Linked DNA regions of Homo sapiens: regions 2, 3 and 4 are each linked to region 1. Evidence: fine-mapped expression QTL. A gene starts in region 1. Each other region holds a variant in brackets. All regions are shown on one strand. Distances are between the middles of the regions. Region 1 holds the start of SIX2 (SIX homeobox 2). Region 2 has its middle 21 kb from the start of SIX3-AS1. Region 3 has its middle 10 kb from the start of LINC01121. Region 4 has its middle 64 kb from the start of LINC01121.

Evidence for each region. PIP is the estimated chance that this variant, and not a neighbour inherited with it, causes the effect. A credible set is the group of variants that fine-mapping cannot tell apart.
Region 2: its variant is the best candidate, but not a certain one, in a credible set for the expression of SIX2 in pancreatic islets (PISA, PIP 0.75).
Region 3: its variant is the best candidate, but not a certain one, in a credible set for the expression of SIX2 in cerebellar hemisphere (GTEx, PIP 0.52).
Region 4: its variant is the best candidate, but not a certain one, in a credible set for the expression of SIX2 in lung (TOPMed, PIP 0.56).

The regions. Positions count from the first base shown.
Region 1 is chr2:45,005,469-45,013,306 of GRCh38, reverse strand. It overlaps SIX2 (SIX homeobox 2), which reads left to right and starts at 3,855. Exons shown (of 2, transcript NM_016932.5): 1 at 3,855-4,756; 2 at 6,822-7,838. The coding sequence starts at 4,197. The coding sequence ends at 7,137. RefSeq lists enhancers at 1-519, 2,783-3,382, 4,387-5,160, 6,434-6,977, 6,978-7,521.
Region 2 is chr2:44,959,156-44,966,993 of GRCh38, reverse strand. No RefSeq gene overlaps it. Among named protein-coding and RNA genes, the nearest start is that of SIX3-AS1, 21 kb to the right of the region's middle. The variant C/G (reference allele first, on the strand shown) is at 2,053.
Region 3 is chr2:45,261,461-45,269,298 of GRCh38, reverse strand. No RefSeq gene overlaps it. Among named protein-coding and RNA genes, the nearest start is that of LINC01121, 10 kb to the right of the region's middle. The variant A/G (reference allele first, on the strand shown) is at 3,805.
Region 4 is chr2:45,315,322-45,323,159 of GRCh38, reverse strand. No RefSeq gene overlaps it. Among named protein-coding and RNA genes, the nearest start is that of LINC01121, 64 kb to the right of the region's middle. The variant C/A (reference allele first, on the strand shown) is at 4,193.

The sequences.
Region 1 (7,838 bases):
GAGCCTCCATCCAGGCCGGAGCATCCCAGAGCCCGAGGTGCGGAGCAGCATGGAGCGCCCGAGGCGGGCGGCGCCAGGGCCAGAGTCTACCCAGGGGATTTCTGCCGCCTTTATAGGCTGGAAAAATAAAGATCAAAAACAAACCGAAAAAAAAAAGCTCTGGTCCCCTGACTTGGCACCGAGCACCCGCCCCCTTCTCTTTTTCCCTCTGTCACAAACAAGGTTTCTGATTTGCCCAGAACAAAGGCCTACCCATCCGCTGGCCTTGGAAATAGCCAGAGAGCAGCTCCTTCTTCCTAGATTACCCTATTCTTTGCGAAACGGCCCCATCCCAAAACCAGGGAAGCCCTCGGGAGGCCAGTGGGCTGACTTCTTCCTTTGCCCAGAAGTGCACCCGCTGGGCGCGGTGTGCCAGCCCTGGGCTGCCCAATGGGCGCCGGACAGTAGGTGCCTTCTGGCTCTGTCCTGGGCGCTTCCTGCCCAACTCCAGGCACAAAGACCCCAAACTGTCCCTGACAATTCGTCTGGGACAAAGCTATTCCATCAGCCTGAGATCACTGGGGAGCACCCACCCACCCCTGCTGCTGCTTTCCAGAAAGTCTCATCCTCCCAGGGACTTCAGGGAAGCTTGGAGGTGAAAGGAGGTGTTTCAGTAAAGCTCAAATTTCCATGGTTCCGAAAAGGTTTCTCCCCCTAGCCATGGAGTTTCTCCCGTTTTTGCTGGATAAAAAGCAAGCACAAGCCTCTTGGGAATGGGTCTTTGGACAGGAAGGAGGACAGGGATTCCGGAGATTGGAGTGAGGTAGAACCAAAAGTTTCGGCACCCCGTAGGCCTCTCAGCAATTGCTCTGGGCACTGCAACTAGGGGGCTGAGATTGTCATTGGCTCAGGCTGGCTATTAAATCCTCATCCAGACACCTCCCAAGTATTCTGTTCTGTGGCAAAGACTATCGGGGAATGGGCCAGGCAGGGAAGGGGCTAAGGAGTGTGAGGAGACCCTCATTCAGCATGTAACCCAGCTACTGCTGCTACCAAGAGGTTCTGGCCCAGATGTGCTGGAACCAGTTTTCTACATACATGGGGGAGGAGGAGAATGAGGGGCATATTGACACACACCCATACATCGGGTAACGGTGCTCCAGGTTTTCAGTGCTTCCTCTGTAATGACTTTTCATATGGCACACAGTATGTTATCCACGGTGGCAGGCCCCATGTCTGTTCTGTTCTCTCTGTGCTGCTTAGTGTTGCCTGGAGGCTCCTGGCAGGTCTGATTCATGGGCTTAGGGCCCAGGGGCTGCAAAGAGGGCAGCACTTGGAGGAACAGTGAGTCTGAAGCTCCAGAAAAATCTGCTTTCACTGAACATAGGCGGGACCCAGTCCTGGGGGAAGTTTAATCTTAAAGCTTCATGGGTCAGAGGAGTGGCACATTCATGGTGAAGGCTGTGGCTGAGGTTGCAGAGATTGTATGCTTTTTCAGGGTTAGTGTTCTTAGACCCACCCCATCCCAGAACCAGCAGGAACTTGAGAGATTACCCAGGCTTCAATCTAATAGTGGAAGAGAATGAAGAGCAGACTGGGGACTGGCCCAGGGTCTCATACCAGGAAGTGACTGCCTGGTCTCACTCACCCACACCAGACCAGGGTGCTCCTCTGCAGCCCCAGCCTAAGCACGCTAAGATGTAAGATGGCCATTGCCAGGGCTGGGACCAGCCAGCCAGGTGAATCCTTTTAACCACGTAGCTGAAGGAGACGTGCTGAAAAGAGTACGTTGCACTTTTGTTGGAGGTCAGCAAATTGGGCTTTGAACCTCATCACAGTCTGCGGTAAATTCTTCTCCATGTCTCCCAGGGTCCTTAGATCCAACTCTGGGGCAGCCCCTGTGCAGCAGTGCATAGGACTCTGGATAGGGTGGCCTGGACACAGCAGACCTCCTCCCAGCCCACAGATACAGACTCTAAAGATGCCACCTGGATTTCTGCAGAAAGCTTCCCCTTTCTGCACCCGCACTGGCTTGGGACCTACTTTGTCAGCCCTGTGGCCTCATTCAACATGCCAGGGTAGGCCCCTGGAAGCTAAAGTCTTAAGAGGAGTCCCAGGGTTCCATTCTCTCATGCCTACAACACTCCCAAAGGACTTCCGGAATGCTGCAGCACAGGGAAAATTTTTGAAATCTTGCAGAGAAGGAAATAAACACAAAGGCATAAATATATGCCTTACCATAGACACCAAGCAAAACCAAAAGTTGAACCCAGGGCTCTAGACTCCCATTCCGCGCTCCTAGCACAAACTCCATAGAAAGCATAAAAGGGTGGGAAAGAAGGAACTGGCCTAGACTCGGGTTCCATAGCCCTAGACTGGCTGAGGGCAGAGCCCAGGATTTGTGCTGGCTTGGGTCAGGCACTGAGTATGGCCCTAGGAGCTCCTGGCCTGCAGCAGCTGAGGGGGGAAGAGGAGGAAACTGAAGGAAGTGGAAAGGACATGTCCGGGAAGGAGCTAAGCCCCGGGCTTTTCAAAACGTAGAGCAAGAACACACCCATCCTCAGTTCTCCCACCTTTGTGCGAGCCCTTCTCCCACAGGACCAGCACCACATGTTTCCATTGGCACCCTGACAAAGAAGCAAAAAACAGGACCCCCTTTTAAAGCACCTCATCCCGGAGCTCAGCGAGCCGGTTCCCAGGCTGGAGTGGCCAGGAGCCGAGCCGATCCCCAGCGGCGAAGCGGGAGGACTGGGAATCTTGCCTCCGTTCTCCTCCCCGACCACCCACCGGGGAAGCCCCACCACCGTCCTAGAGTCCCTGCCGTCGCCCCTCTCCCCCGCCCCGGTGGGCAGACTGCGGGTCTGCGCCGTCCGGGGTTCTGCGTCGCAGCTGCCGGCCGGAGTCAGCTTCCATAGAGGCCACACGGAACTGCCTGGCGCTCCTCGGGCTGTGGGACCCGTGGGGTTAAGTCTGAGTCCCCGCCCGGCGAGGAGCAGAGAGCGCAGAGTTGGGGCGGTACAGGCCGCCAGGCAGCCGGCGGGGCTAGGAGAGGGAGGAAAGGCGGGATCCTCCGGGAAGTCGATTCTCCGGCGTCCGCCTGCGGCCACTGCCAAATCTTCCCCATTTCTTTCGTCTACTCCCTCCCCTTTTCCCTCGAGGACCGCTGAGTCCAGAGTTTCTAGGATGGGGGTGGGGCGCTGTCAGCAGAAAAAGCCAAGTCTTTGGGCGGCACCCGAGCACGTCCAAACTCTCCCATCCCACTGGCCTGCGCCGGGGTAGAATGTGCCCGGTGAACAGAGAGCCTGGGAGGGACGCGGTGACCTGGGGAGAAGGGGAACCCTGTAGGGTCTGGGCGAGGCTGCAGAGCCCTCTCCTAGCCAAAGCTGCCCAAACTTTCTTCCCCTGGAGTCTCCTTCCACCCCTCTCCCTCCCCTTCCTCCTGGACACCCCCTTAAACGGTCTCCGCCTTCCCTTCTCTCCTCTTCTCTCCCCACCTCGATCCACCCCTTTTCGTCTTCGCCCGCTCCCCCCGCTCTCCTGTCCTCCTCCTCCCTCCCTCTTTGGGCATCCGCCCCGTCAATCTCCGCCGCCGCCGGCCCCAACCCGGCCCCTCTCCGCCTCCCAGGCTCTCAGAGCGCCCCAGGCTCCAGTAGAGCCGCCCTCAGTTCTGCGCGGAGCGGGGCGATCTGTCAGCGGAGCCGGCCGGGGGGAGCCGCCCGGCCCGCCGAGGCTCGGGTTACCAGTGACTGACAGCGTCTCCATGGCGAATAATTTGACTCCGACTATTGTCTGGCGCTGGCAGGCCCCGGGTCAGATAACCGGACCAATCAGGGCGCGGGCCGCCGCGCCTCATGCCCGCTTAGAATAATATTATTAAGAAAGCTGAGAGCCAGCTAGACGGGAGGGAGAACGAGTGAGAAGCGAGCGAGGGAACGGCGGGCGGGCGCGGAGCATGCGGAGCGGCGCCCCGGGCGGCCCCCGGGCTTGGGCGAGGGCTTGGGCCAGGCGCGCGGGCCGTTGGGGTTCGGAGCTTCGTGGGACCCGCGGCCGGCGCGGGGACGTACGGCAGTGACTCGGGGCTCACCGGGGGCCAGTGCCGGGCCAGGGGGCCAGCCCCGCCCGCGTCTCGGCCCGGACGGCCCGGCGAGGAAGCTCCCATGCGGGACCGCGCGGCCCGGTGAGGGCGCGCGCGGGCGGGCGGGGACGCAGCCGGCACCATGTCCATGCTGCCCACCTTCGGCTTCACGCAGGAGCAAGTGGCGTGCGTGTGCGAGGTGCTGCAGCAGGGCGGCAACATCGAGCGGCTGGGCCGCTTCCTGTGGTCGCTGCCCGCCTGCGAGCACCTTCACAAGAATGAAAGCGTGCTCAAGGCCAAGGCCGTGGTGGCCTTCCACCGCGGCAACTTCCGCGAGCTCTACAAGATCCTGGAGAGCCACCAGTTCTCGCCGCACAACCACGCCAAGCTGCAGCAGCTGTGGCTCAAGGCACACTACATCGAGGCGGAGAAGCTGCGCGGCCGACCCCTGGGCGCCGTGGGCAAATACCGCGTGCGCCGCAAATTCCCGCTGCCGCGCTCCATCTGGGACGGCGAGGAGACCAGCTACTGCTTCAAGGAAAAGAGTCGCAGCGTGCTGCGCGAGTGGTACGCGCACAACCCCTACCCTTCACCCCGCGAGAAGCGTGAGCTGGCGGAGGCCACGGGCCTCACCACCACACAGGTCAGCAACTGGTTCAAGAACCGGCGGCAGCGCGACCGGGCGGCCGAGGCCAAGGAAAGGTACGAGTAAGTAGACCTTCTTCGGCGCCAGCTCCCCGGGGCCCAAGGGAGGGGTTCGCAGGGCTTCTGCCGGTCCCCCGGAGAGGCCTAAACTGGGCCCCCAGGCCCGGCCACAGCCCAGCGGCAGCCCGGCCTGACTTGGACGATGCTTAGGCCTTTCTATGCCGGAGACCCGGCGAGCAGGGATTTGTCTAAAGCGGGCAGAGCAATTCAGGAAGTTGTCAACTAACTACTCGGTCGCTAGAGGAAAAGGGTGGAGAAGCAGAGAGCTTCGGGGCAGCGCAGAACTGTGGGCCTGTATCCCCTGTGAGGCAGGCACAGTAGGTCTGGTCATCCTCAGGACAGAGGGGTTTGAGCCCAGATGAAAGGGGATTTGCAGATTTCTTGCTGGTGGTGCTTCCCGGCATTTCCCCCCAGCCTTAGCTCCAGGCCAAAGTGTGATGGGGTCGGGACTGGGGCTGGAACTTCCCTAGAATGACCTGGATGGGGAAAAGCCAGGCCATGAATTTTCGTTGTCACATGGAGTTGAGAGCGGGTCCTTTATCTCCTTAGAAAGGATCCAGAGGTGAAAGGGAGGAAGTGTCAGTTCTGGGAGAGAAGAGACGCATGCCCTGTTTTCTGCCTTGCTAGAGATAGCCGCCCTTCCCTGGCACTCCAGGCCCTTGATGCCTCTCTCCTTAGGCCCTACCTCTGATGGGTAGGTCGGAATGTCTGCGGTGAGCTGAGAGGCACAGAGGGGCTGGGAGTTGGATGTCCTCAGGTAAACCAGGACTTCCTGAACCAGCCTAAAGGTTGATCATTAGGCCCTTGCCACTGCCTGCCCTATAACCCCTCAGGACCTCAAACCTGGAGAGAAACTTATTATGGGAACAGAATCCAGCCCGGGGTAAGAGCAAAACAGGACACCTGGGGTTGGTGATATGGGGTGTGTTCCACCCTGAGTTTGAATGATCAGGGTCAGAGGTGAGGGTGCTGAACCAGAAACATCTTAGGGGGAGTGCTGCAGGCTCAGATACTTCCAGGTATCTGAGACCCTGAGGTTGGAGTTTCCACAGTGGTGAGGTCTCAGCTGCCAGCCCTGTGGGAAGCTCCCTCCCAGGAAAGCAGAAAGAAAAACCCTCCCGAAGCTGGTGACAAGAGATCCTACCCAGGATTTTAAATATCCAAATCTGGGGAGGAGCTGTCAGTCAAAGGCATAGAAGGAGGTGGGTTCTCTCTGCTGGGTCCCCCTCCACCCAAACCGGCATGTGATCAGACTCCTGAAAACCTGGGTTCTCAGACCAGGCCCCAGATGAGAGCTGCAGATTCCCGGAGTGGCTGGTTACAATGGAAAAGCCTCGGCCTTCTCCCAGGGGCTGCCCTTTATCCCCCAAGCTTCTGGTCTCCGAGCTGACGTTTTCACTGTACCACCACGGAAAGGGAGTCCTCCATCCTTGGACCCTTGTCTCTAGGCCCAGCAAGGAGAGCCCTCACAGGGCTGCCCAGTTTGGAGCTACAGGGAAAGGACGCTTAGCCCCAGGAGCCTGTCTCCCAGCCAGGGGTCTCCCTCGGGCAGAAAAAGCAAAGGGAAATGAAGTCTTGTGAGAGGCCCTAAATCCCTTGACCTGGGATCCAGGGTTCCTTAACCTGCTAGCCCCACATCTACCCAGCAAACCTGGCTTGTGGAGCCTAGAGTGATCTGAAAATCCAGGCATCGTCTCTTCCTCCCGGCTCACCCCACAACTTCAGGGAACCCTGTTCTCCTGCACCTCTGTTCCTGAAAAGAAATATTGGGGAAGGGGGGAAAGAGGAAATATAGAAAAGATATTGATGAGATTGACAGCATGAGAGGTGGGGACGATAAGGGCAGAGGGGCAAGAGAAATTGGGTGTTGAGAGATGGAGAGAACGGGCAGAAAGGAGAACCCAGACCAGGTCGAGGAAATGGTAGAAACCGAAAACACCCGCAGGCCACAAGCCCGGGATCTGTCTCCCGAGGCTGGTGGCTGGCTCTGACTGTGACTGAGATGGCGCTGGGTGGTCTCGATGTCCCTGCTGACCCCGCTGCTTTGCTCCCGCACTTGCAGGGAGAACAACGAGAACTCCAATTCTAACAGCCACAACCCGCTGAATGGCAGCGGCAAGTCGGTGTTAGGCAGCTCGGAGGATGAGAAGACTCCATCGGGGACGCCAGACCACTCATCATCCAGCCCCGCACTGCTCCTCAGCCCGCCGCCCCCTGGGCTGCCGTCCCTGCACAGCCTGGGCCACCCTCCGGGCCCCAGCGCAGTGCCAGTGCCGGTGCCAGGCGGAGGTGGAGCGGACCCACTGCAACACCACCATGGCCTGCAGGACTCCATCCTCAACCCCATGTCAGCCAACCTCGTGGACCTGGGCTCCTAGAACCCATTTGCCTTGATGAGCTTGCCTTTTGTGACTTGACACTGGGGACGTGGAGTGGCGGTGTCCAGGGGCGCCCCGCCCCTGCGGCCCCACCAGGTACTGAAAGACCCGCAGGCTGAGCGGGTAGAACAGCCGGGTAGGGCAGATAGCTGTCTATGTTGGTTCTTGTTTGGGATTTATTTTCAACAAGTTACTTTTAGGATCCTTTTGGGGCTGGAGACTGAGTCTTGAACCACAGAAGGGAATAAATTATACACCACTGTCATTCTCTCTCTCCCTCTGTCTCTTCCTTTTACCCTCTCTTGTCTTGCCTTTTCCCCCTTTCCTCTTCCTTTCCCTTCCTTCTCTTTTCTTTTTTCTGCTTTCTGTCTTTCTCCCTCTCCTTGTATTGCTTTCCTTCTAGATTTCTAGCTTGCCACCGTTCATTCTCTCCTTCTGTCTCTCCCTTTCTCTCTCCTTCTCTGTTTCTCCTCTCTTCTCTCCTGCCAGTCTCTTGTACTCTGTGTCCTGGTCCCTCCGTATGTACCCCTGTCTTTCTCCTCCTGACTGGTGGTCTATCTGCCCCTACCTCTGGCCCTCGCTTTACCGGAGTAGGGGGTGGGAGAGGGAAGAGGAGAGAAAATACAGGGACTTTGAACCTAGGCCATCTCCTGAGGCCTTTTCCCTCGCCCATGTGGGTCAGTGGGAGCTGCAGGTGTCAG
Region 2 (7,838 bases), 46 kb after region 1:
CAGGGCTCTCTGTGACCCTGTCTGTGCTTGCTTCACAATTCTTCTAAAGTGCCCCCTTTGCTCTCCCCCTACTAGACCCGCATTCTATGGTCAAGAGAAAGAAAGGTGAAAGGCTGGGTCTTTTCATACAGTTTGACATTAATCCTGAGTCTTTCAGAAATGGTGAATTTAAAAAGCACTCCGCCTTGATAGTAATGAACACATTACATTTTTCTATTGATGTAATAGGTCTGCATTTGTACATCACCCAGGCAGCCCCCTAGATTTCTGCAGAGCCCAGCACTTTGCTGGCTCCCCACCACCCTCACTGAGGCACAAATGCTTGCAAAGAATGTTCCTCCCCAGGAGCGTCAGCAATGGCTCTGGCCTCTAAGTCGTCGGATGTCAGATTTCTTTTCGGAGATGATTATTTGCGTTGTCATTTATCCCGTGTATGTGGCTCAAATTTTACAATATATGTTACAATATATCCCTCTGTCCTCTGTCCTGACTACCAAGGCCAACTGAAGAAGAGGGGCCCATCTCTGAAGACTGGAAGCTGCTCCTCCAGCTGGCTTGGGATGTAGGTGGCCTTGTCTGCAAAAAGAGAGAGGGATGAAATCAGTGGGTTCTCGGGCTTTTGCAGCCCTCGATCTCCTGTGACAGACAAGAGCCTCTCTGCTGCTGCTACAGTTGTCACAGTGGAAACCCCTTCCCCAAAAGGCAAGTTGTCACCAGCCTAGCTGCCTGCATGGGGGCCTGGGTGACGAATGTCTTGCAATTATTCTTCAGTTGATGCCAGAAACAAAAAGTATATACCCCACACCAGTCCCCAGGACCCCTCTTAGCAGGGTGAGTCTTGGGGAATGCAGGCTCTGGGCCCATCTCTTACCACATGCCCTTCACCCACCCCACCCCTATTTCCCTGCAGATGAACCAAATTAAACTGAACAGCCTCAAAGGGAGAGGTTGCCAAAAGACAGTCTGAGGGGAAATGGGAAGAAGCAATCCCCCATTCTGCTTTAGGGCTGGGGACAAAAGGGTTCCTTCTTCCTTGAATACTGTTAACCACAGGCCTTTTGGGGGCCCTGCTGGAGGAGACATCCCATGGGCTCTCCCCTAAATCACATGAGATGACTCATCTCCACCCACATCAGCCACCCTGCTTTCCACACTGTAGAAACTTCTCTGTTCTTCCCAGACAACTGAATGCCAATATTTCTTAAGTTTCTTTCCTGCCAATAAATTCTGTTTTGTTCCAGGGGAAACAGGGTTCTACCATAAATGCTTTATTTGTGTGTGGTATTTACGGTGTTCGTCCACCTGTATATGGTCAGTGCTTTCCTTTTCACATCCAGCCAGCCATCCTGGGTCTTCCTGCAGGACGGACAGTCCAGAGACACTGAAACAGGCCCGTGCAGGGGATGGAGAGGATGTCCCCTGGCACTAAGACAGACCGCATTTGACCCCACTGTTCTCTGTCAGTCAATGGGGAAGGCACGTTTTAACAAGAACGGGGGTCCCTCTCAGGTTCTTTGAGGTGCCACCACTCCTGCTCTACCCACAAACCTAACACCTGCTCAATATCATGCCCATAAGCTATGAACACTGGGGACTAATCGAGAAGAGAGGTGAAGGGGAAACTGAGGCAAGGGCCAAGGCCAGGCCAGTGGGTATTGCTGCTTCCAAGGCAGCTGGGGAGGAGAGATTCCATTTCCTGAGCTAAGCTTGTTCCATTTCAGTTTGAACAGATGGAAATATAGTTCAATGTTTCAACATCATTTGCCTTTCTCGTGCTAAAATATTGATAAGTGCTGCCCGGGCTGATGCCCCCGCAGTTCCCAGCAGTAACTGGAGCATGATGTGTACTGAAGTGAGACATGGCAAAGCCTTTAACGAGTGTTTAAAATTCCTGGAATAATGCTCAACACTGGCTCAGCTCATTCGGCTCCTGAAAACTGCCCCCCCCCCCACCGCCCCCCTGTCGCCCCCTAATCGGCAGGAGGAGTGCGAGCACAGCCCGGCCCCCCTGCTGGTGGCAATTAGTGCGGCAGCTGCTCGTCTTCAGGACAG[C/G]AAACAATGCAGGGGGTGCCTGCATCTGCCGAGGCGGCTGAGCCAGGCAGGGAGGCTGGAGCACTGGGGAGGCAAGGACATGGGGAGCTGGCTCCTCCACCTGCAGGGGGCTGTCACACGGAACACAGACCCCAGGGAGAGGGAACACTGGGCGGGGCTGTCCAGAAAGGCAGATGAGGGAAGGGCAAGAAAAGGGGGAAGAACACCAGGTTTGGTGGCTCATGCCTGTAATCCCAACACTTTGGGAGGCCGACGTGGGTGGATCACCTGAGGTCAGGAGTTTGAGACCAGCCTGGCCAACATGGTGAAATCCCATCTCTACTAAAAAAAAAAAAAAAAAAAAAAATTAACTGGGCCTGGTGGTGTGTGCCCATAATCCCAGCTACTCAGGAGACTGAGGCAGGAAAATCATTCAAACCCAGGAGGTGGAGGTTGCAGTGAGCCGAGATCATGCCACTGCACTCCAGCCTGGGCGACAGAGCGAGACTCCATCTCAAAAAAAGAAAGAAAAGAAAAGGGAGAAGAAGGGAAAAGAGGAAGATGAAGAGGGTGGGGACTTAAGAAGGAAGGGGAGAGGAGGAAGAGAGGAAGTAGCCAGGAACAGCAAATCCCCTGGGAAGAGCTTGCCAAGCTCCGATAAGAGAATCCAATATGTGGCTGTAGAAAGGGAAAAAGGACCCTCAAGAGGGCCTCAGCCAGCGGCATCCCAGTCCTAAGACACCTCTCTGCAAGTTGCAGCCATGACAAAGGCCCCCAGACCCAGAGCTGAGAGGAAACCTACAGTGTGGACCTGGGATGTCACTTCCAAGCTTTAGAACAATCCAGGCTTCCCGGGCAAGGCTCTCCTGGGATCACAGTATCCCCCTTGTGGAGATCAAGTGGTCTAATTGTGGAATGTTAAACTTCTCACATACTTTAAGGTGCTGGGTGTTTGGTTCACAATTTTTGAAAACACTTGGCTGGGTGCGGTGGCTCATGCCTGTAATTCCAGCACTTTGGGAGGCTGAAGCGGGTGAATTACTTAAGGCCAGGAGTTCAAGACTAGTCTGGCCAACATGATGAAACCCCATCTCTACTAAAAATACAGAAATTAGCCAGGCATGGTGGTGGGCACACTAGTCCCAGCTACTTGGGAGGCTGAGGCAGGAGGATCACTTTAACCCGGGAAGTGGAGGTTGCAGTAAGCCAAGATCATGCCACTGCACTCCAGCCTGGGTGACAGAAAGATAATCCAACTCAGAAAAGAAAGAAAGAAAGAAAGAAAGAAAGAAAGAAAGAAAGAAAGAAAGAAAGAAAGAAAGAAAGAAAGAAAGAAAGAAAGAAAGAAAGAGAAAGAAAGAAGGAAAGAAAAAGAAAGAAAGAAAGAAAACTCTTTATAGATCTTTGTGAGATTGTTCAGAATAATGTTTTCCAGAAGGCCTATTTGAATCAAGAAGACAATGTCGGCTTTTTTCAACAGTGACCAGACTGTGAGAGAAAGCAAGGCTGTGCCCCAGAAAGCTGTGGGGTAGCCCCACTGGAAGGAATTCCAGGCTGGTGGGTGTATGGGACTTAAGTCAGTAGAACTCAGAGCCACTAACCGAAAGTATAAGCATTATTATTATACATGATTGTAGATTGATTGATTAACATTTACAACAGGAAAGAAAAAATAGGAAATCTACAATGGGTTGGAAAGCAAGACACAACAAACTCATTACTTACGCTCTCCCTCTGCCTTCCACAAAATAAAACTCAATGAAGTAATGTAAATATAACAATCTTATTTTCTGAGACCAAAAAAAGGGGGACATGTGATCTGACACACAGGATGACATTTATGGAAGCAAACAAGATGCAGTATAAAATTGAGGGTGTCAGGCCAGGAAGGTCCAGGATGTGAATACAGAGAGGCTGGGGCAGCCTGTGGCTGCTCTGATTGGACAAATCTTCATAGAGGAGGAACTGTCTGAGGCCAGGAAGTGCTGCATGGTCTGGGGGTCTGGGGAAGCTGGCAGCAGCAGCATCTTGTCCTCCATCCATAATCAGGTCAGCTGGGTGGGGAATGCCTGGCCCGGTGGCACAATGATACTCCTATCTATACACATTAGCTCCAGGCACCTTTCCTCACCACCGCGATGTTTTACCAGCTGGCCCCCGTCCAGCCACCCTTACAAGGCCAGCCAATCGTCCAAACCATTTCTATGTGGGCTGTTTCTGGGACCAGCACAGTCCCTCTGGGCTGAGGCCTTGGCAATGGGTCTGTCCCTCTGGGAAGGGGGCTCTGTCTGTGATTATTCTCCAAGTTCTTCAGCATCTGTCCATTGAGTGACTGGGGCGTCTGGTTTCCATGACCAGAGGTGGGGGTAGGAAGGAGGGGCTGTGGTTGTGGCCAAGGCGGAGACCCCCCCCAGAGGCTGGCCATCTTCTCAAGAGTTTACCTGCAAGAGTCGAAGAGCCCCACTGCGGCCGGGGCTGGCAGGGAGGGCAGCACCTGTGAGAAGACAGATGGGATAGGGAGTCCTGGGGTGGCCACAGTGAAATGAGCAGCTGCCAAGGACAAGGGCCAGACACCAGGGGCAGACCACATTTCTAAACTTGGTGATATGTTTCCAGCCCCACATCCAATCTGGTCATCACAACCAGTGCCCAGCTGTTGTCACCACCAGTTCACAGAGGAGCAAGACCAGAGCTCAGATTGCTGAAATGACAGGACCAAGGTTACAAGGCCTGCATTTCTCCCTGACACAAGGTGTCACCTTGAAGAATTTCCAACCCAGAGACACCCCTGTGCCTACAAAACACCTGGGATCTTGTTAAAATGCATTTTTCTTTTTCTTTTTTCTTTTTCTTTTTTTTTTGAGATGGAGTCATCACCCAGGCTGGAGTGCAGTGGCACAATCTTGGCTCACTGCAGCCTCTGCTTCCCAGGTTCAAGCAATTCTCCTGCCTCAGTCTCCCAAGTAGCTGGGACTACAGGCCAGCACCACCATGCTGGTAATTTTTGTATTTTTAGTAGAGACAGAGTTTCACCACGTTGGCCAGGCTGGTCTCAAACTCTAAAATGCGTTTCTAACGAGTCCCCAAGAGGTACTAGCGCTGCTAGGACCCCTCCCTCACCCTTGCACTGAGGAACAAGGCCATCAGGCAGTATTTTCCCATCCTGCCTATTCATAAGAATCACCTCCAGCACCTGGGGATTCCAATGCAATAAGGACTCAGAACTGTGACCGTTTGACAAGAGCCTCAGGTGCCCCTCATGGTCAGGTAAGTTTGGGAAACACTGCCCTAGAAGTGTGGGAGACATGTGGCCCCCACTGGGAAGCTTTAGCAGGGCCCCAGGGATGGGAACCTTCTTCATGGGCATCCTGGGTCTCCCAGGGGCCCTTCGATCCAGCAGGAGAATGCCTGCCTTGGCCCTGAGGGTGCTTCAGTGTTCAGCCTTGGCCGGCTTCTTCCCCTCTCTCTGCCTCCACCTTCTCATCTGCATTATGGGAACCAACATCCAAAGGCCAGGACATGACGGAAAGGGCCACCTAGAGAAGGGGGGCATTTGGAGAAGGGAGCTGCTGGAGCTGCTAGGGACAAGGCAGTGTCCATCCTGTGAGCAGGAGGTAGATGGGTAAAAAGGCAAGGCAGCAGGAAGGAGGAAGGAGGGGAAGCCAGGGTCATGCTGAGATGTAAAAAAGTGAAGATATCATACGTTGCCCCTACCCCTTGGCATTAGGAAACATTCAACCAAACAACCGAGGAGGAGACTAATGAGCAGGGATGAAAGGGGGACTCCAAGGTGAAGTCTGCAGAGCCCATCACTGTAGTCTTCTATGCCACAGAGCAGCAGAGAATCAATGTCTGGGAGGCTTGGTGCTGGGCTGGCAACCAGAGAGAGTGGCCAGGAATCCTGAAATGAAATGGAGGCAAGGAGGGCAGAACTGGCCAGGAGCACGGGCTCATCTACCATGTGGCTAGATAGGAAAAGCCCATGGGCAGGAGATAGACCCCCGGCTTCCCACTCCCTAACTCCACCCCCATCCCAGCCACCGTGTCCCTACTCCACAGCTGCCACCACCAGGCCTGCTTCCTCTCTAGAGGCAGTTGTTGAGCACATGTCTATGAGGAGAGAATGGGAAAGTCAACGTGATCCCATCAGTTATTCCTTTTTTTTTTTTTTTTGAGATGGAGTCTCACTCTGTTGCCCAGGCTATAGTGCAGTGGCCCGATCTTGGCTCACTGCAACCTCCGCCTCCCAGGTTCAAGCAATTCTCCTGCCTCAGCCTCCTAAGTAGCTGGGATTACAGGTGCCGGCCACTAAACCTGGCTAATTTTTTGTATTTTTATTGGAGATGGGGTTTCGCCATACTGGCCAGGCTGGTCTCGAATTCCTGACCTCAAGTGATCCACCCGCCTCGGCCTCCCAAAGTGCTGGGATTACAGGTGTAAGGCACTGCGCCCAGCCTGTTTTTTAATTAAATGCTAGTTCCCTCCACAAAGTTTCCACTCAGAAAAACACCAGCTGCTTCCACAGAGAAATCTTCCTGGCAACTGTCACAACTCCCTTTTCTTTCTACCCAGGGTAGGCCTGGGTTTGCAGTCAGGCAACTGACTATATCAAGTACCAAGAGAGGGCATGAGCCACCACGCCCAGCCCAGTTGTTCCTCTTTACACTGAGATAAATGGACATGAAGACTTGTGTTCAAATGCTTGATGTTTAAATTCAAAAAGAAGCAGGGAGAGATGGAAGGGTTACTCTAAAGTGTGTCAAAATATGATGAGTACAGATAGCACCAGGGAGTAACTTTCAGTACGAGGGTACAAACTGACCCCAAGTGAGAATGTTCTGTCTCAATTCCAAGTGCTTCATGGTGACATCATCGCCAAGGCCGCCCTCCTTCCTCAGCAGCATGCAGTGTTCCTCCAGGGCACCGCCTGTTATTCTCCTGCCCTTGCCCGAGTGGTACTCCCCCCTTGCAAGTCCCCTGACTGCTTCCCTTTCAGCTGACCCCAGAGAGTCCTCCTGTTGCTCCAGGCAACAGACAGTCTGCTCAGATGCTCTCCTGTCCCCTCCTTTTAGGTGGTCCCCTCCTTTTAGGTGATTTCCACGGCTCTGGGTTCTGCATGCCCCATCAGGGTCACCTGTAGATTTCTCTAGGCATATTCTGTGGCAGGCTGGTAATGCCTGTTTTTTTGTTTTGTTTTGTTTTGTTTTTGAGATGGAGTCTCACTCTGTCGCCCAGGCTGGAGTGCAGTGGCACGATCTTGGCTCACTGCAACCTCCAACTCCTGAGTTCAAGCGATTCTCCTGCCTCAACTTCCCAAGTAGCTGGGACTATAGGCACATGCCACCACGCCCGGCTAATTTTTTTGTATTTTTAGGAGAGACAGGGTTTCACCATTTTAGCCAGGATGGTCTCCATCTCCTGACCTCGTGATCCGCCCACCTCGGCCTCCCAAAGTGCTGGGATTACAGGCATGAGCCACCGCACCCGGCACTGCCTGGTTTTTAAGCCTATGGTACTTTTTCATTCACTCACCCATCCAATCAACAGAGTCTGGCTTTGTGTTAGGTGCTGTGGGCAATACAAAAGGTGCATTTAACACAGCCCCATACCCTGTCTAGCAGGAGAAATAAGCCATGCACTGCAATCACAGTAAAGCCAGGCAGAATGTGGTCTGGGGCTCTCTGCTGGCCAGGATAGCTCCATGAGGGCACCATTTTCTGCACTGTCACTTCCCCCACCACCTGAGGTGCATCCTTTCTCCTGCTACTTGAAAAATCCCAGCTCCTTCTGGCCCATCTGCAGGGTCG
Region 3 (7,838 bases), 260 kb before region 1:
AAATCCAGACTCTCTAGCCTGGTGGTCAAGGCTGGGTCATGGCCACCATCCAGCTTTATCTCTGGATAACACTCTGGTGCTGCTCTATACCTGCTCCCCTTTCCCACCCAGGAAGTTCCACCCCAGTTCTCTCTGTTGATGTAGGCAGCTTCCAGGAAAAGCCACCTCTATTTTCTTCTCAGAGGTCTTGCCAGTGTGCGTGCTCCCATCAGCTCCAGAAAAGCTGGCAACTTTTCTGCATCAAATCTTGGGTGTTTCTGCCCCTACCTTGGGTATTTCTGCCTCCTGGGTCTCTTTCTTATCCACCTTCCTACAATCCCCCTAGTAAGGCAGACCCCCTTTGCAGGGTGAGGATGGCAGTAATGCAGCATTTCTGTGCCATTACTTACAAAGACAAATGGCCTGTGAGCCTTTTAGGATGTAATTTAAAAGCCATTTGTCTAGCAGTAATAACTGGAAATGGAGTTCCACTGTAGGCCGGCATGACTTCCTTTAGGAGCGAGGGATCTGCTAATGGTGTATGGCTGCCCCGAGGACTAGCTGGCAGTGGCTGTGTCAGACTTACCCACTTTTTCCACTGGAAGGACCTGAAATGGGGAAAATGGCATTTTGAGGGGACTGTGAGCTCACATAGGGCTTTGGAGAAAGGCAGATACTTTTCTCTGGAGCCCAGCGTGGAAAGTTCCCAGTTGTTTGTCTTATACATCGAGAGGACCAGAAATAGAACTAGGTTCAGAGGGGTGGGGATTATGACCATCAATCTCGCGAATTCGAATCCTTGACGTCTGGAAATGTTGGGCTTTATCTTTGTCCTCTCTTTTTTAAGAGATTGCAGGCAAATTTGAATTATATGGCTTTGATGCACCTCAGAAGTAAAATTTCTCAGAACACTGATGCTTTTTCCTTTAGACAACAAAGCTTTTATTTTATTCATTCAGGATAGACAGTTTGAAAAAAATAAATTACTTGTGCCTCTTTAAGAGAATTGTTGCAGAGACAAATGTTCACTGATTACACATTCTTTTGAATGTCTTTCTCTGCTCTTCTTTTGTTCATTACGTGCTATTTTACAGTTACATTGTTTTATCTATCTTGGTGTTTCATATATATTTACTCCTTATTTGGCTGGGAAAAAAATTGATGGAAACATCCCAAATGGTAAAATAAATGATAGCATGTTTCCGCCAAGGGCTACTTTGTGGCCTTTGAAAATGAGGTAGGAGACTGTTGATACAGAAATTGGAACTGTGGAAAGAAGTTTGTGCGGTATCACTAAGTGATATAAGCAGGCTGCTAAATAGTGTGTACATCAGGATGGCCCCTATGCCTGGGAAATCTTGGTGAGCTCTGACTCCAGACCATTCAAATCTATGAATGAAGATGCCAAAGTACTTAGCCTTAGGTAAAAATTCTGTGCACTCAGTTAAAGGATTCCACACAAAAGAAGTAACATTCACTGATTACCTACCACGTGCCAGGCACTATTTTAGGAGCTTTCCTACATGATCTCCGTTAATCCTGATAATCATGCTCTAAGGTTATCTTTGTTCAAGATGAGGAAGCTAAAGCTAAGAGAAGTTGCATCACTTGCTCAGGTACACACAGCTGACAGAGAGTGGAGCTAGGATTTGAATCTAACATAACCAGCTGCAAAGCCCATGTTCTTTCTCTTACCCAGTGATCTACTGCCTCAATAATGCCGCATGATGCATGAAAAGCAAACACAAAACCTGAAGGGCATGCAACAATCAAGGTTTACTGCTCACGCCTCTGGGGTCAGTGGGGAGTTGGCTAGGCACTTTGGCTTGGCTGGACTCACTCAACGCGTCTGGTGGTTGGCTGGCCATGGCTGATCTGGGCTGGCCTTGTCTGGGGTGATGGGCGTGGCTCGGATCTGCTCCACATGTCTCTCATCCTTCAGCAGGCTAACTGGGCATGTTCTCACAGCAATAGCACAGGCGGAGGACAGCAGGAGGAATCACAGAGGCCCCTTGAGAACCTGACTGGGAACTGGTGCACTGTCATTTCTATTGGTCAAACCAAGTCACATGACCAAACTCAGTGTCAAAGGTGTGGGAAAAGGAACTGCAAAAGTATACAGTAAAGGGCGTGGACATGGGGAAGAGAGAAGGATTAGGGTCAGTAAAGCCATCAGCCACATCCAACAAGCTGCCTTCTTCAAGCAGGTGTTCTGAGAGCTTCATCTGGACATTCGCCTAAACTTTTTAAGATCTTGGTAAAGTGGCCAGGCGCGGTAGCTCATGCCTGTAATCCCAGCACTTTGGGAGGCCGAGGCAGGTGGATCACTTGAGGCCAGGAGTTCCAGACCAGCCTGGCCAACATGGAGAAAACCTGTCTCAACTAAAAATACAAAAAATAGCCGGGCATGACCGCACACAACTTTGAGCCACGAGAATCGCTTGAACCTGGGAGGCGGAGGTTGCAGTGAACTGAGATTGCACCACTGCACTCCAGCCTGGGTGACAGAGTGAGACTCTGTCTCAAAAAAAAAAAAAATTTTGGTAAAGTTATGTGTGGGTGGGAACAACAAAGTTAGGGGAAGAGGGAGGATGGGCGGGAGCAGATATGGATTTAACCAAAATAACTTCATTCTACAGTATTTTATTGACTGTGCTAAAAGGAGAAAATGGATAAATTTGTTAGATGCTGAAAAAATCAAAGTGAAGGTTAATTGACTGCAATACCTCTCAGTATCTTCAATATTACAATAAGCATTATGAATATATGGGAGGTAGACTGCATGTTTCCCAAACTAATTTAACCGTGAGAACAGCCTACCTATTAACCTCTCTTAGAAAAAGTGTTCTGGGAAACCCCAGTTTGGGAAGCACTAGACCAGATGATTTTTAAGGTGCTCTTTTGTGACATAGGACACACCCTGGGACGATTCAGGGAAGGAGAGGGTTTTTATTGTTGTTGTGTTATTGTTGTTTTCCACCCCATGCTAAATGGACCCAAATTCATGACCCAGAAAGAAAACAGATAGCAGAACTGCTTCCGTAGCACTTTCTTGGCCGGCTGGCAATGTATTACTGCTGCCAGTCCTTCTCGCTGCCTGGCTCTGGCTTTTAGATGTGGCATCTGTGCAGGAAGCTAAAGGGCTTCCAAAGAGTACAGTGTACAAGCTTTGTGAACGTTACAGTTGTCTGCAGTGGCTCACGCCTGTAATCCCAACACTTTGGGAGGCCGAAGCCGGTGGATCACTTGAGGTCAGGAGTTAGAGACTGGCCCGGCCTACATGGTGAAACCCCGTCTCCACTAAAAACACAAAAATCAGCAGGAAGTGATGGTGGGCACCTGTAATCCCAGCTACTTTGGAGGCGGAGGCAGGAGAATCTCTTGAACCTGGGAGATGGAGGTTGCAGTGAGCTAAGATCACACCACTGCACTGCAGCCTGGGTGACAGAGTGAGATTCCATCTCAAAAAAAAAAAAAGAAAGTTACAGTTGTCCCTTAGTATCCGTGGGTGATTGCTTCCAAGACCCCCTTCAGATACCAAAATCCACAGATGCTGAAGTTCCTGATATAATATGGGGTAATATTTGCATGTAACCTGCACGCATCTTCCTGTATACTTTAAATCATCTCTAGGTTACTTACAATACCTAATACAATGTGAATGCCATGTGACTAGTTGTTATACTGTGGTGTTTAGAGAATAATTGTAAGAGAAAAAGCCTGTCCGTGTTTAGTACAGACACAAGCATCCTTTTTGTGTTTCAAACATTTTCCATCCAAGGTTGGTTGAATCCATGGTTGTGGAATCCCAGATACAGAGGGCCG[A/G]TTGTATTCATCCCCAGCTGTTCTTGTCGCTGCCCAATGGGTATTAACATAGTTCTGTGTGCTTGAGATTGCTGCAAGCCTTTCCTTCAGGCAACTGCCATCATATGAATAAGATTGCAGGAGGAAAGGTAGCTCAATTAAAAGAACAATTGTCACACACTTGAGGAACACATGCTTGAATGTATCCACTATGCCAATGATAAGCAATGATCTTTTTCTATTTGGGAAGTGGAACCACAAGATTTCCACTTGTCAATCTTTGTTAACCTCATTCAAAGCCCTATGTGTATATGAAAATATCAAAGCAATATGAAAAAGAAAGACATCTGTAACTCAGACTTTTCACAGAAGTGGTGTGACTTATGGAAGAGGGGCCTTGTTGGTTGTGCAGATTCACTGTCTCTTGGCCGAATGACGACCGAGCATTGCTGTCCCATGCTCTGTCTCATGAACCTTCTGACTCACCCTGCACGCTCATCTGTGACCTGTCAACCACAAAGTGATGGAGGCAGATCTCAGTGGATTTAGAGGTTTATTTTGCCAAGGTTAGGGACACGCCTGAGAAAAAGAAACACAAGTCACAGTAGTTGGTGTCTGTGTCCTGTGCTTTTTCCAAAGAGGGTTTTGTGAACCTCAATATATAAAGGGGACAGAGCAAGTGGAAGGGGAAGAAAAAAGACAACAAAAAAGGAGAGTGAGTAGGCAATGAGGCAAGTGGTTACATTCCTGTGAGGTGCTGATCAGCTCAGTGAATCTACATTTTACACCTGAAAAGAAGGGAGTGGGGGAAAGTCGATTATGCATTCCTCGCTGGCTCAGTGAATCTACGCTTTACATGCGATAAAGTAGCATGTGAGATTACAGCTATCTGTTTGGGAACACAAGGAAGGCAGTTTTTGCATGACCCAGTTCCCAAGTTTAACTCTTCCCTTTGGCATAGTGAGTTTAGGGTCCCGAGATTTTATTTTCCTTTTCACAGACCCCTGTCTGGCCAGGACTGAGAGGTGATGATATTACCTTGGCTCCCTTCCACCTGGGAAGTGGGGGACTGGACCCTTGGACCTTGTTCTGCCCAACCCCCTTCCTTTGGAACTGCATCCCTTGATCTCTGACATGGGCCCTGCTATCCAGATATACCAGCCACACAACCCGCCTGGAGTCCAGCAGACAGTGGAGTGGGGGCCTGCAACAAATAACATCAGACAACTGGCTCTTACCTTCCTCTGGAAGCTCAACAACTTATGGCCATAGCTGTTTTAGCAGGGCTGGAAGTGACCCCATGGTACCATTCTTTCTGTAATCTTCGTGTCTTCTACGGGTACAGCCCTGGGTTTCACAACCCCTGCATGTGTGGTAGTGTGTGAACTGGTGCTCTTTGGAACTTTGGGTTCATTTACATAATGCATTTCTCAGGTGCATATGAGTTATGCATGAGCGTGTATTGTTAATGATTTGAAATTTAATTTGAACATGACAATTTTTTCTTACCCCTCAGTTTTCCCTTTCTCTCCCACTCTAGCTCATGCAACACTTCAAAAGAAATTTGGGTCGCTTTTCTGGATGCTGTGGGCTCCTGACTTTTTACTTAAAACGGGAGGGGAGCACTCAGAAGCCCAGGTACAGGGGAGCACCTTGTCCGAGGTAACTTAATGAGCCGGTGGAGGATCCATGGGTAAGCCCAGGATTCCCTGCCCCAGAAGCCCTCCCTCTCCCCTTCCTCATTCATGTCTCTGCTAGGAAAGCTAATTGATAAGGGGTGCAGGGCATCCCGAACTTGCTCTATGCTCAGGCTTTCCACCAGAAAAAGGCTCTATATGGATGAATGTCCTGTGATTACTTCCCTTTGCCGATTAGAATTCTCAAAAGTGGAGAGAGATTCTTTCTTGCTCACTAGAAGGTATGAGGTGAAGAGCTACCAAGGACAGACCTCTAATTAATTCTCATCAGGGTGTCCCCTGAGGGAATTCAGTTCTCTCCTTCCTCTGCTCCATCCTGTTCCCCACGTGTCATGACCTCAGCAAAAGACAAGTTCAGTTCCCACAGGTGCACGGGCCCACTCTCCTAAATGAAAGGGAAGAGAAAAGTGTTGAGGACTGATCTCCCCTCTCCTGCTCCCGAAAACAGGAAGCAGGCTGGGTAGATTGACTTGATACAGAGCTATCAGACTGCTGCTTGCTCACACGGGGACCTTTATCACTGCCAGTCATCAGCGCTCTGGTGAGCTCATGAATAATGCATTTCCCAGTGATTTCCTTCTTTATTTGCTAGCCTGAGGCAATATTGATTGAAAAACCGTCTACATAGCTGAGCTGTGTTGTGGCAACATTTATTGAAAATGATTTGGAGACAGAACACACATATGTTTATCTCTACATAGGTATGTTGTTGTCTGTTGTCTTTGGATAATGACATTTGTTTAAGGGGCCGCTGCAGTTATTCAGCAATGTTTTCAAATCGAAGGTGGATTCAGGTTGGAGCCCTGAAACAGCTGTATGGTGTGGTGGATCAGGAAGATGAGGCAGAGTGGGAGGTGGACTGGGAGGAGAAGATGGACGGGGAGGAGGTTGAGGTGGATTGGGAGGAGAAGGTGGATTGAGAGGAGGTGAATTGGGAGGAGGTAGACTAGGAGGAGGAAAAGGTGGACTCGGAAGAGGTGAGGGTGGACTGGGAGGAGGAGAAGGTGAGCTGGGAGGAGGCAGAGGTGAACTGAGAGGAGGTGGAGGTGGACAGGGAGGAGGAGATGGTGGATTGGGAGGGGGTAAACTGGGAGGAGGTGGACTAGGAAAAGATGGCCTGGGAGGAGGTGGAGGTGAATTGGAAGCTGGTGGGTGACAGGAACAAATACAGCAGAGCCAGTGAGGACTCAGGAAGGGTCCCAGGATTAGAACCGCAACATTAGTGGTCATTGTACTGAAAGCAGCTCCACTCAATGTGGAAGGAGATGTGCAAGTCATGAAATGGAGACAGCGTATGCGGAGCCTTCTTTTTTCACAATTTGAGATTTAAGAAAAGGTGAGAAAACGAACCCTACTGCTAACTAAGAAGACTTTTTGGGAGAACTGTAGCCTTCTTGAGCAGTTTCCATAATATGCCATATGTGAAAATACCTTCCCAACAGCAGGGAGCCATATGGATGGAAGAGTTTTAGGTCCTGATTATTAATAACAGCAGGATGCTGCAGTCAGTGGATAGGACAGACCTAAGCCTTGCTGGCCAGCTGCAGGGGGCTCTTCACCTCTCTGAACCTCCAGCGCTTCTTGGGCTCTCTCTAGAACTTCAGTAATGGTGGCTTCTCCACCTCCATCATTGACAGGCCCCAGAAAATGAAGACTTGAGCTTTGAATGACTGGGAGAGAAGAGTGTGAGGGAACACAGCTGAAGGAGCCTCCCTCTCACCACCCACTTCCTGTGACACCCTTCCAATACCAATCTGGCACTTGCTGAGCACTTGCTGAACTGTCTCTGGAGCTTTCAGAGGGAAAGCCCAGGGTGGTAAGGGGAGGGCTATACAGAGCCAGTGCATGCTTCGGAAGGAGAATCAAGTTCCCTGAAGAGGGTTCTCTCCTTGGAATCCCTGAAAGCTTTTGTGACAATATAATTAAGTGGGAGGCCACGACAGCCTGTCAAATTCTAAGTGTGCTTCTGGCTCACCCGAGGTGGTGGGTGGGGGAGTAGGGATGGGAGCATCAGGCCTGCTATCAGCACAGAAATTCCAGGTATGCGCTTCTCTGTCAGTTCCTGAGAATCATAAATGAAGTAAGCAAAGGCTCCGAGCCGGGAGCCTTCAGCAGATGAGGATGCCAGCTACCCACCAGCACAGGCCAGCCCCTGCAGCTTCAGCTGAACAGAGCAGCTGGCCTTGGCCTCTGCTCCATCCAAGCTCAGTCTCCTCGTCGCTAATAGTGGTTAACACTTACGTTGTTTCACTGTCTCAGCCCTTTGCAGGAGCGTTGCCCGCAGGTCACCATCACATTTGCCCCTTGAATATGGTGCAGCCAGGAGGGGCTTTTGCAGCCAGAGGAGGGAGATGAAGT
Region 4 (7,838 bases), 310 kb before region 1:
CTGCAGAGGAGCCATGGAACTCAGCAGAAGGCCAGCTCCCTCTCTGGGAGGCCGCCTTCAGGAAACCAATCGTCCCCCCACCTGATTCCAAAGGAATTACAGAAAAATGGAAAGCCAGGAACAAAAATCATAAATCATATTTTCAATATGACCTTGTAACGTTATCCATGGATGTTACCTCAGACTTCGGTGAGTGCAGGGGACTAATGCTATCCATTTATGAGTGATGCCGAAACTGGAAAATGAAAGACAATTCCAAATGCACTGAGATGCTAATGGCACATTCAGTGTCTGGAATTCTATTTTATATTAATGAGAATTATTTTTGTTAATGAAAATATGTTGAATGTTCATTACTGTTGAAAAATAAGTTTCTCCTTTATTTCTCTAAATAGGTGTTAAGTATTTAAAAAATATTGTTTTGAAAGCCCAGGATCATTTGTCTCCTTAAAGTGCCTTAAGCACCCACCAAGTGGCATTCACTTGGCAAATCATTGGTGTGAAGTCTAGTGCTCAGCCTTGCTTGCCATGAATGGCATAACTCACATTAACCAAACTCGCACAGGCACAGGCTGCTGTGTAAACCAGAAGGCCAGCCTGCATCTCAGGGGGTAGAATCCAGGCATTGGGAATATGTACGTACGTGTGTCTCTGCACCTAGGTATGAGGACCTGTGTGGTGACAGGTAGGTATTCCAGAGAGGGAAGTGCTCCTGCCTCTGTGCACCTAGACAGTACTCGGGTGAGCATCAGTCATGCCCCATGTTTCTCCCTTTCCCGTGTCCACAGGGATGGTTCAGCATCTTTGCCACTATCTGCTGGGCCCGAAGCCATTCTGTCTTACAAGGACCTCCATTCTACTCCTTTATGGGTTGGTTTTAACACTCAGGGAATAACTTCAGGTTTCTAATCTCTAAGATTAGAGATTAGAGAGAGACCAATCCCCAGCTTCTGAGATATTTAAGATGTATTTTGGAGCAGTAATAAAAATACAAATTGTCATGCCTTACGTGTACATGGTGACTTGTAGATCCCAACGTATCTTCTGTTTCACCATCTCCTTTGATTTTCCCAGTAGCCCTGTGGCCAGGCTGGGAAGTGTTAATCCACATTCTGGTTTTAAGACCTGCATTTCCCATTGCCTACAAGTGTTTTCACCTGACGGCTTCACCAGGGCCTTGCAGTAAGCGTGTCTGAAATATGCTATGTGTTTCCCCACCCGCTTCTCTTACTCCGGTGGCCTGTGTTTTTGTTCGTTATCCCATCTTGTTCCTGATGGTCCAAGCTTGCACCCTTGGCATCCTCGCTGGCCTGCTGGCATCCTCGCTGGCATTCCCCTTGGCCTGCTCATCTGGCCAGCTCCTCAGTCCTGCTGCTTCTGTCTTCGATAGCTCCTTGAGCTCAGCCTCCCCGTCTTGCTGCTTTTCTCACTGCCATCTGCTTTCTCCCTTCTCTCCTGAATAACTGCAGGTGCCTCTTAACACATCATCCCTCTTGTCCTGGAAGTTGGATTAACCACCCTAAAGCGTAGCTCTCATTGGTCACTCTCCTGCCCACAGTCCTCCAGTAGCTCCTACAGCATAGTTTATTCCAAACTCCTGAGTGGCATTTCAAAACCTCCTGATGTGTCTCCAATCAACCTTTGCAGTTTCATCTCCTCCTCTGTAACCTACATGGCAGCTACATTGGGTCCTAGGTGCTCCTCAAGCCTCTCTCAGGCTTCTCCATCTCTGTGTCTTTAATGTCACTGCATTAGTGAAAGGATTCCCTCTCATTCTGGCTTGCTGAAGTCCTGCCTGTTCTAAGTTTGCCCAGGTGTCCCTCCCCCTATAAAGCCTTCTCAGTATGTTACTTGGAGGTAGGTTCTTTCTTCTATGCATTCCCTAGTCCTTTCAAATGATCTTGGAGCATTGTCAAATTTGTCCTGTAGGTGGGAGGAGGGAGAGGATCAGGAAAAATAACTAATGGGTACTGGGCTTAATACCTGGGTGATGAACTAATCTGTATGACAAACCCCTGTGACGCAAGCTTACCTACATAACAGACCTGCACGTGTACCCCTGAACCTAAAAGTTAAAAGAAAGAAATTTTACAACTAATCACTAAGTTTAACAAGGTTGCAGGATGCAAGATCAACATATACAAATTAATTGTATGTTTATGTATCTACAGTGAATCATTGGACATTAGAATTATGAATAGTGCAATTTAAAATATCATTAGAAAATATCAAATACTTAGGAATAAAGCTGAAAAAGAGGTAAAAGATCTGTACACTAAAAACTACAAAATATTGCAGGGAGATAATTAATGGCATAATGAAATAAATGAAGACATATACTAAAAACAAAAAACAAGTTTGCCTTGTATTGTGGTTACTTATGTTGAAGCCTTAATCTTTTTTCTTTTTTTTTTTTTTTTTCAGACAGAGTCTTGCTCTGTCACCCAGGCTGGAGTGCAGTGGCGCAATCTCGGCTCACTGCAAGCTCTGCCTTCTGGGTTCACGCCATTCTCCTGCCTCAGCCTCCCGAATAGGTGGTATTACAGGCACCTGCCGCCACACCTGGCTAATTTTTGTATTTTTAGTAGAGACAAGGTTTCACTGCGTTAGCCAGGATGGTCTCGATCTCCTGACCTCGTGATCAGCTTGCCTCGGCCTCTTGAAGTGCTGGGATTACAGGTGTGAGCCACCGCTCCTGGCCCCTTAATCTTACACACTAAACGACAAGCCCCTTGAGGGCCAGGACTGTGTTTTTCATCTCTGCAGGCACTGAGAGAGCCTATCAGCATCCTTATACATGGGGCCAGCTTGATAAACATTTGCTGAGTTGAGCCAGTTCCCCATCTGGCATGCAGAGAGACCGAGAGTCAGAGAAATTAAACAGCTTGCACCAGGTGGGAAACAACACTCACAGCCCCCAACTCATAATGCAATCTTTCTTTCCACTACCCCAAGATTGACTGGATAGCTGGAAGTCCCATTGGCCATTCAACAAACATTCATTAGGTGCTAACTACGTGTCAGGCATTGGGTGCCCAGGATACAACAGTGAACAAGACTGCCTTAGACCCTGCCCTCATTGGAAATTTAGCCTAGTGGGGGAAGGCAAACCTAAATAAATGGTAATTAAGTGCTCTAAGGGTAGAAGCAAAAAGTGCCGGGATAGAAAATGGGGATATGACCTGGGCTGGAGGGGGTTGTGGGATAGTCAGGCAAAGCTTTCCTGAGGCATTGTTGTTTAAAACAGCTAGTTGACAAGAACCAAGGAAAGATTGGTTTTCTCGCAGCGTATTGAAATGCCCTGAGGCAGGAAATAGCTTAAAAGAAGGCCAGGGTGGCTGGAACCTACAGGGGAAAGGAGACATTGGCAAGAAATAAGGTTGGTTAGAGAGGGTGTCTGATGGCAGAGAGAGAGGCCATTTCGAGGCCACTTACAGGAGGGGCTGTGGTCAGAAGGGGGCATGGAGAAGTGGGCAGACACAGAGTAGATAAAGGAGATTGGAGAGAATATTACTGGCATCATCAGGCAAAAGAGTATGGAGGTGTAGGGTAGAAAGGTTACAGCACGACAGAGGGGACTGGATGGACAACCACCCCCAAACAACCCTCTGTATGACTGCAAATGGTGAGCCCACGCTTGGAAGCGGGAGGCAGTGTTTAATGCCTTTTCCAGCTGCTGGTTTGAGGAGACTGGGTAGAGAGGACAAGTAAACAGAGGCCTGGGCAGCACCTGGAGGCCTGGTATTATCCCCAGTTCCTCCATACACTTCTGTGTCGCCTTTGCAGGATTTGGAGCCTCTTTGGTTTTCATTTTCTGAACCATATGGTGAAATTGGTAAAGCCTTGCAGCTGATGCCAGTAAAACCCTTTAAATTCTCTAACAGAATAGGACTCTCAACATCCTCTAGAGAATGACCATTATTTACACTCTTCTAGTTATTCCTTTCCTTGAGAAGGGGATTCGTGTATCAAAGAAAATGCTAATTTTAAAAAAAAGGCCAATTGACAGCTCTTGGAACTCATCATGGCAGACTGGCCTTTGCAAGGTGGACAAACCCTCGCAATTAGAAAAAAAAAAAATGCAGCCAGCACTCATTGGATTAAGAGTGTAGAAAAGCAAATGTGTTTGAATCTTAAACACATCATAATTTTAAGCATCCACAAGTGTTTAGAAAGTGTTAGCCGCTATGAG[C/A]GCATACATCTATTCACTAGTTAAACATCATAACCTGTTTCTTTTCTAAACACATGGGCAGGAGAACAGAGCATGGTTAACATGTTAAACACACTGACATGTTTACAATGTGTTGCAAGAAGGTGTTTAACTTTTTGTGCTCCAAAGCTAAACACTTTGGAATTACAGGGCTGGCTAATTCCGCCTACAGTTAACATGGCTGTTGCCTACTGGTCCCTTTGGCTTTGGGCAGAGCACCTTTGGGAAAGCAGACCACGTAGTGATGACCTGGGATTCATAAAGAGCAGCCTGGGCTCCTTACTGCAGGATCTTGGATGTTGATGAAATCTGTGTTTCTGAAAACATATCATGAAAGAAATTAGAGTCAAATTCATGAGTTGCTGGACCGAACTCATGCTCCAGATTAGCATGGCTGCTGTTTCCATGTGCAGGTGCACAGGCTATCCTGCTGGTGAGGGCTTTCCAGGAGACTCCAGACATAGGCAAACTATGGCCTTGGCCTGTCCTACACAGTGGCTCATACTTTCATAGAAAATGATTAGATCCCCAGAAGCTAGATTGAAAAGAGAGATAGAGGAGAGAGGAAGGAGAAAGAAAGAAGGCAATGAATATTCTTTTTCTCTGGCTGCTGTAACAAATCACCACACTACTTGGTGCTTAAAATGATATAACTTGATTATCCTTCAGTTCTGAAGGTTAGAAGTCCTAAAGGGGTCTCTTTGGGCTAAAGTCAAGGTGACTGCAGGACTGGTTCCTTCTGGAGGCTCCAGGGGAGAAGCCGTTTTCTTGCCTTTTCCAGCTTCTAGAGGCTCCCTGCATTCCTTGGCTTGTGGCTCCCTTTCATCTTCAAAACCAGCAATGGCCAGTTGAGTCCTTCTCATGCTGCGTCACTTTGATTCTGCCTCTCTTGCCTCCCCCTTTCACTTATAAGGATGTTTGTGATTGCAGTGGGCAATTCTGGGTAATCGGGATACCCTCCGTAGTTTAAGATCAGCTGATTAGCAACCTTAATTGCATCTGTAACCTTAATTCCCCCTTGCCATGTAACCTAACATATTCACAGGTTCCAGAGATTAAGACAGAGGCATTTTAGGGGGCCATTATTCTGCCCATCACAGGGTGTTACCAAAAGCAAGGGTAAGAGAGAAAGAGGATAGAAAAAAAGGAATTATACTAAATTATGCTAAATTGAAATCCTATTTAGCCTCATAAAATCCCTCATATCGGGGTATGGGCTAAGCTACTATAACAAAAGGACCCCAAAATACAAGGCGGATTATTTCTCTTTCATGGTAATAGTAGAGGTAGGTCATCCAAGGCTGTTATTGTGGTTCTGACATCCCCAAGCAGGTAGTTTCCATTTTCTTTTCTTGCTTTCTTTCTTTTTTTTTTTTTTAGACAGAGTTTTGCTCTTGTCACCCAGACTGGAGTACGGTGGCGCAATCTTGGCTCACTGCAACCTCTGCCTCCTGAGTTCAAGGGATTCCCCTGCCTCAGCCTCCTGAGTAGCTGGGACTACAAGTGCGTGTCACCACGCCAAGCTCATTTTTTGTATTTTAGTAGAGATGGGGTTTCACTATGTTGGTCAGGTTGGTCTCGATCTCCTAACCTCGTGATCCACCCTCCTCAGCCTCCCAAAGTGCTGGGATTACAGGCGTGACCCACCACGCCTGGCCTAGTTTCCATTTTCTAAGTCCAAGGAGATTGCTCCAGTTTTCCTCAACTTGTAGCCTGGAGGAGAGGAGGAAAAAACCAGAGGAGGCCGTGTGCATTCCTTTTAAGGATAAGATCTAGAATTGAATTTCTCAGCCTTGACACTGCTGGCATTTTGTGCCAGATAACTCTCTTTAGTGTGCACTGTCAGTGTTTAGCAGCATCTCTGGCCACTATCCACTAGATACCAGTGGTGACAATGACAAATATATCTAGACATTGTAAAATATCTCCTGGGAGGCAAAATCACCCCTAGTTAAGGACCACGGATCTAGAAAAAGTACACATGACTTCTGGTGTCATTCTGTTTCCCAGAACTTACCCATCTAAAATTGGAAGTTCTATTATTAAAGAGAGAATGGATGTTTGGGGACGACTAGTAGTCTTTTCATCTGTTTCAGATACTCAGCCTGCCAAATCACTGAAGTCCCACCTCATGTCTGAGACATCTGCCTGGAATGCACAGTGGTCCAGCTGCGGAGGGGAGGGGCTGAAGGTGGTCACCAGCGGGAGGAATTTCTAGAGTTCTTGGCCAAAGCTCTGGATGGTCAGCTTGTACCCTCTGTCCAGAGTTATCTGAGGGGACTGGGCAGTCACGCATTGGAGCCCGGCTTCCCAGAGCTGAGGGGGAACCAAAACATTTCTGGGAGCCAGCGGCTTGCCATTTCTATGTAACACATCATGAGATGTAGCTTGACTGCTTAGGGCTTTGGCCCAGGGGGCTCTGATTTGTAATCTCTTGTTCTGTTCTTAGTGGGGCCAGACTGACCTTGGGGACTCACAGGATAGATTTGTATAGGGTAGTAGGTTTGAAAGACATCTAGAACTGGGTTTTACATCTGTTTCTGTTATTTATTGGCTATATGATTCCTTAGCATCTCAATTTCCTCACCCATAAAATTAGGACAGTATTATCCCTTGCTAAAGTTTGTTTAGAGGATTAAATTAGGAAACATGAGAACAAGACTTAGGTGCCCTTTCTGGGGCTTAGTAAACACTTGATAGATGGTACTCATCTATTCCTTTATTCCTCAGACATTTACTGAATACCTCCAACGTGTAAGGTTCTATGCTGCATTCTGGAAACATGAGCATAGCAGGAAGCAAAGTAGATCTGGTTCATCTCAGTGGTTACATTGTAGTAGTTACTACTGTTATTATTATCATCATCATGATTCTGGACACAGGCCTAGAAGTGACTCTCTGCCAGTGGTAGGGGAAGGCTGAGTCAGCTGTTCCAGGGCTGAATATGTAGGAATGAGACCGGCTGGTGAGGCCCCGCTTGGATGTTGGATGGGGGATAATAATGGGGAAGACTAGTAGGGCAGAGCAGCCAAGGACTTGGTCCTATAAGCCAGAAGAAGAGAATCAGAAATCTCTGGGAATCAAAGGCTGTGAACTGAGTGGACACTGCCATCCCAGGACTAACAGATTGGGTGGGGAAAGGCCAACCATATGAAGGGAGGCCAGAGGACAGGGACAGGCAGCTGCCTGGCAGAGCTCCTTCAGCCCAGGTTGGAGGAGTTTGAAGGCCTGGCTGAGACACATTGCTAGAGCTACTCCCGGTGAGGCCAGGCTTGCTGATGGGGCAGGGAGGACTGTGTCTTTGGGCGAATGGGGTGCTCCATGGGCAGCGTAACAGCAAGTTTGGTAAAACAGGACAGCTCGTAATCTCCCTGTTCCACCGCTGACTTATCTATTACATCATATCTCTTCGCCGGCCAATTATGAGAGCAAGTTTGGGAGACAGTTCACCTCCGTTAAATCATCAGGGAGTCACCGAGTTAATGATGGCTCCAGGCAGTGAGTCTCAGACTTTTTCCATCTACAGTTCACTCTTGGCAAAGTAAAACACCTCACATTTTCCCACTTACTAAAATGGAAACCCTTCTTACTAGAATGCAACTTAAATTCCATGGTCAATTATCATAAT